2 separate regions of the Homo sapiens genome follow, and region 2 is linked to region 1. Evidence: fine-mapped expression QTL. A gene starts in region 1. The other region holds a variant in brackets. All regions are shown on one strand. Distances are from middle to middle.

What was found. PIP is the estimated chance that this variant, and not a neighbour inherited with it, causes the effect.
Region 2: its variant is the best candidate, but not a certain one, in a credible set for the expression of ATF2 in whole blood (INTERVAL, PIP 0.83).

The regions. Positions count from the first base shown.
Region 1 is chr2:175,166,815-175,169,735 of GRCh38, forward strand. ATF2 (activating transcription factor 2) reads right to left here and starts at 1,389. Exons shown (of 14, transcript NM_001880.4): 1 at 1,236-1,389. MIR933 (microRNA 933) reads right to left here and starts at 895; the gene lies at 819-895. RefSeq lists a silencer at 1,338-1,407.
Region 2 is chr2:175,202,218-175,205,138 of GRCh38, forward strand. No RefSeq gene overlaps it. Among named protein-coding and RNA genes, the nearest start is that of ATP5MC3, 22 kb to the left of the region's middle. RefSeq lists a silencer at 1,551-1,690. The variant C/T (reference allele first, on the strand shown) is at 1,497.

The DNA of each region.
Region 1 (2,921 bases):
TCTTAAATGCATGCATTGTGACCGTCTCCATAATTTAAAACCTCTAAGAAATTTAAACTTTCACATTATAATTTAGGGATTAGTCAATCCCTTAGTACCAGTTAAATAATAGCCAGGAAAGCATTAGAAAACCTGAAGGTACATGTAAAGAAATGCTTTACATCACTATTTAAAATAGGTGTTGAATTTTAAGAGAAACATTTCTTTCACTAAAATTTCTGATGCCTAAGGTCCATCAGGAGTAATCTCTTTTACTCCATGATATTCACAGTAGTTTTGCTCTTGGCCTCACCAGTTTTAAGACTCTCCATTAAAGAAAGCCAATTTTATACTACCTAGGGGCACAAAAATAGTTCCCAGCTCCTCCTCTCTTTTTCCTCCTAGGTTCGGTTAAACGAGCGAACATAGAAAACACGTACACACACTCCCTTTCGGCCCTGGTCCCTAGGGCATTGATGAAAAGCAAATTATTTCTTTACATACGCTCTGCTGTCCACCCAGAGATTTAAAAAAAAAAAAATAAGGGAAAATACCAGAATCAGTCTGCACCCACACCTAAGCCCCGCCCCACCGGGAAAAAGCTGGGGGTAGCGGGATTGTGAGGGTGGCGGAAAGGACGGAAAAGGCCGAGACTTCCAGCTCCTAGGTTCTCCACACCATTCTTTCCTTCAAGCTGCACCGCAGCCAGGGACCCTGATTCTATTTTCAGCCGCGCCTCCCGATCCTCCTCCCCGCCACCATCACCAATACACGGTCCTCAATCGCTTGAATACTGGGTGGGGAGACCAGAGTGGGCCCTCTCCCCGCCCAACCCAAGGACTGTGGGTGGGAGAGGTCTCCCTGCGCACACGGCTGACTCGACGCGCGCCCCGAGGACCTCTGAACTGACCCAAGTAGGGTGAAGATAATTCGGAGGGAGGGGTCTAAGAGGGAGCCGTTATTCCTTTTTCCTCTGCCTTAGGAAAGCGCGCGAGAGGGAGGGGCCGGAACAACGAACGCTGGTTACCTAACGGTCCGGCCCAGCCAGTCAGGTTCCCAAAGCCCACACCGCGCGGGCCGCCGAGGTGGCAGCACAGCCACAATCGCCCCAAGGGCTAAGGAGCACGTCAGGAGCACCCGAGGTGATGGGAAACGGGGGGTGGGGACTGTGCTGAGCGACGTCGCCATGTTAGCGCCTTCTTTCTCCGTATCCCTACAGTCTCCAGCCCTGCTGACCTCTGCCCATCGTTACTCACCTTTCCAGGTCACTAGTTCATGATCCTTTCGGTCACCCGCGAGCCCTGAGCACAGCCGTGTTTACAAAGCACCCCTGGAGGAAAAGGCTGAACGGCACTTTAAAGGCCACGGGCTCCCACAGGCTTCCGTCCTCTCTCGCGAGATCGGACTGACAACCCCCGCCCGCTCGCCCCGCTCCCGGCATCCCCACCTTCCTTCTGGCGCCCCTCCCCTTCACCCACACGCCCCTTCTTGCCTTCCTTCTGAGGGAGCGCCTCCGAGTCAGGTGATTCCGTCAGGCTTAAGGAGAAGAAGGCGGGTCTTCGGCAGGGCGGGTAGAGGGGACGGGCATCAAAGAGCACTCGGGCGCTCATGATTGGACAAGGAGCCCGAAGGGCGGGAAGCAGTTCTGGAGGGGGCGGGACCAGAGGGCCCAAGGAGCGTTACTTCTGTAAACCCGGAGCTGTGGAAGACTGTGATTGGCTGTCGGCTGGAGGAGGGCGCGGGTGCAGGCGGCGGTGAAGGGCTAGGCAGGGCTTTGGCGGTGTGAGGGGAGGAAAGGTGGTGAGCTCCGGAAAGGCTGCTAGAGGGAAAGCAGGATGGGTCCTCCGAGCCCAGCCCCAGGAGCCGGGTGTCTCCGTTTCCGTCACTTCCCAGCACTAGGTAGGGAGGTGGGTAAAAGTAGGCTGCGTTCCTCAGCCCACCCCTTGGCTCCCCGGGAGCCTGAGGCGGGGAGCTTCGGGTTAGGTGAGGTTTGGGGGAGGCGGAGTTTGCTGGTAATTGCCCATCCCTCCCCTCCAAAAAACCCCACACAACTTAAAGATTTTAATATTAACTGTAAGGATGTTGGTTATTCAATAAATAGGCACAAGTTGAAAAGTATGATCAGAGGCCTCTGTGAGAATTTACATTATTCAATAAAAGATTTTCAGTGTCTTATTTTTTCCATTTATTAAATACTGATTTCTAGTCTGGAACAAAATTATGAACTAGTTTATATATTAACATAAAATACACTCTCAAAATTGTTGAAAGGTTTTGGGGGATAGTATGAGAGTTAATGAGCCTGAAGTTCAAGAATGATATCTGGCATAAAAGTGAAATTGTAATGGCATTGACATTTTAACAGGTAGGTCTCTGGACCGCATACATGTGTATAAGCCAACTCAGTCCTCTTTTAAAACTAATTTTAGTTAAGAAACATTAAGCCAAATTATTAACACTTTCCTACTTAAAATGAAAGTACCGTCCCCATATAGTAACAGTAATGTAGTAGTGCCATTGTAGTGTAACACTAATTATGTCAGCAAAACCTCACAGTTCAGATTACTCATGATGGAAATGGTGGACAAAATGTTTGATTGACATCACAATTGTTAGGTCTAGAACGCATTGATTAAATAGATGCTTCTCTCTCCATCTCCCAAAACAACTAATGTGAGAAAAAGAACTGCAAATGTTACGACATTTCAAAAGAAGTTTGGGTCAATTAGAATAGATTTTTTTAAAAAAATTGTTTTTCCATTTGAAATTTTTTCCAGTGTTGATTCAATTGGGCAGTAGCTTTGGTTTTAAATTTCTCATTGCTACTTCTCCAGTCTGTTGTCAAGCAGTTAGTTATCTACATGATGCATTCGAGAAACACATTATTTTAAAGAAAGTCTTTCAGTTCTTTTTAGACAAGAGAAGAACTGTTTAGTGATATG
Region 2 (2,921 bases), 35 kb after region 1:
GAATTAAATTGTTGAGTTTTTCCTTTTATTTACTAGTTTTCAGAATAATGAGCCATATATAATTTTAAACCATCAAGTAATTAGTGTAGGGTGATTATCTCATAGAGTAAGAGTGGATGACGTGTCCCTAAGGGAATTTGGATGATTTTCTGTCTTTGAAAGAAACCTGGACTAGGTAATCTCTATGGTTCCTTTGAGCTCTTGAAGTTCATAATTTTTCTTGCTCATGAAAACCATTTATGTTTTAATTCTCAATTTTCAAAAAGAATTAGTTGATATATTTCAATGTTATTTAGAGAGCAGACATTCATTTAACATTTAACAGATATTATTTGCTAAAGAATTTGCAAAAATTTTGTGTGTTTTCTCAAAGTTCTGGATAGTTAGCTAATTTTTTTCAGGGGCTACTTCACTACCTTTTACATTTCTTTATGTACATTTTAAACGTAGGTTTTTAAACTTAAAATTTTAAACCATGAAAAGTTGCAAGTATGCTGAGAATTCCTATTTATTTTTTATGCAGATTCAATAAATTTTGCCATTTTCCATAATTTTTAATACTCTCTCTGACTGTGTGCATGCATGCACACACACACGTATGGTATTAACTGTATACATAAACATCTATGTGTCTATCATCTATACACATTTGCACAAAGACATTTTATAGATATTTTAATTACTTTTCTAAGCCATTGGAAAGTAGGTTGCCTGCATTATGCCCCTTAATATTTCTGTGCATATTTTCTCAAAACAAGAAGGTTCTCTTACATAGCCACAGTATAGTTATCAAATTCAGGAAATTTAACATTGATATAAAACTTTTACCTAGTCTGCAGTTCATAGTCCAATTTCATCAATTGTTCCAGTAAGGTTCTTTATAGAATTTTTCCCCTCTAATGTGGGCCCAGCCACATTGACATTTTTGAAGAATACAGGTCAACTGCATACTTTTTCCTGGCTATGATCATATATATTTCCCAGTTATTAGTTGTAAATAATAGAAATTGCCTGTGGCTGATTTAAGTAGGAAAGGGATTTATTGAAAAGGTATTGAGGACCTCCTAGAATTTTAATATATCAGTATATCTCAATAAATATTTTTTACAAACAATAATAAATTATATTTATTGAGCACTTACAATGTGCTGCACACTGATCATATTACGTTATTGCCTTATCCAGTAAATAACCCTACGAGGTAAATTTCCTTTCCAATACTCCTGAATTTATTTTAGAAATGAGACAACTATAGATTAGGAAAGTAAAATGAATTTCCCAAGGCCACACAGCTAGTAAGGTGCTGAGCCAGTGTTCAAAGTCAAGTTTTGTCTGACACTAAACTCCATTCTTTTTCTACTCCATATTTTAATGGCAGCATAACTTGAAAACATTTCTGAAAGACATTTGCTAGAAAATAAATGATCTGTGGTAGACTGAAACATTAAATATTGCTTCAGTTGATATTATGAGAGATGTATATTGTAAAACATACA[C/T]GCGTTTTAGCTTTTCTCCATCTTTAAAATCACTTCACAGACATGACCGAATGCTAGAGGAGCTGGCGAGAAAATCCTCAGCGTGCACATCAAATTGTACCCACTTGGGGGCACCCACAATGCAGCTTTTCTGCCTGTTCTGCCTAGAAGCTTCGAGCCCTGCAGAGGTGGATTGAGCCAGCTGCTCTACAGGACTCGGACAGCCCGATCTGATATCTCAAGAAATAGTGCCCTATATCTCCAAGTTTAGGGGATATTTTACTTAGTTTGTTGCCCACATGATAAACTATTTTCTGCAGTTTAAAACATCAATAATTAATACAATTGCTACAGGCCAAACGTGCTAGATATATGTTAGGATTTAATGACCAAGAACTAAAAATAATTTGCTGACTTAAAATGATACGTTTGTCCAGAGGATTTTTTTTGGATTTACGCTATGCCAAAATTAGGAACATAATGATTAACCAATAGGGGTAAAAAATGTGCTGTAAAATCAAGCTAAGTGTTTTAAAATAGTTTTGCATTGTGGTCTCACCTGAAACATGCTCTTTGGTAGGGACATGTGTTGGCGATCTCCAGTGCTGCTGCTGATGTAATCTCCAGGCCAGCCATTTGGTCTTTAGCTCTATTTGATAGTAGAGATCCTCCTGATATATACAAATGTCTAAGATGCCACTGAACCCAGATGTAGTTGCTGTGGCTTTGCCTAGAGAGGGGTTATTATTCCAGAGCATAAGGAGAGAAGATACAGCAAACAAGATTGTACTGGATGGGGCTATCACAGTCTTTCATATCCACCACTGCTGCTAAAGAGGCAGTTGAAGGTGGCCATATTTTAAACCATATAAATCCACCTTTAATATGGCTGCTTAGACCAGAGGGAGCCAAAGTATGATGGGAGAGCAGCTCATGGGGTGATTTAGCTTAAAAAACTGTTCAAAGAGGAACAAGTTGGACCAATTATATGCTTACCTATGAGAATCTGATTCGGGATACAGAATATGAGGGGACTCATAGTAGAAACTGATATGAAATAATGTATAGTGGGGGTATAATGTAGAATAGAGGCCAAGAGCACAGCCAGATTATGAGGAAACTAAGCCTTGCAGAAGGTGAGACAATAACTAAGCTTAAGCTACTAGAAAAAGAAAAGATGAAGAGGAATTCAGTCTTTTTTTTTTCTTTTTCTTTTTATTATACTTTAAGTTTTAGGGTACATGTGCACATTGTGCAGGTTAGTTACATACGGTTTAGCTAGAAGATATGTGAAGAGAAGCAGGGACAAGAGGAGGCTGAGCAGTGTTTCTGGTGGAGCTCTTGAGGGAAGGCTCACAGTTCTTGCTCCTGAGGGTTCTTGGTACAGTCCCAGTTTCTGTTCCATTTCTGGTCCCTGCTCATTGATCACCATGAGATCCTGGCTTC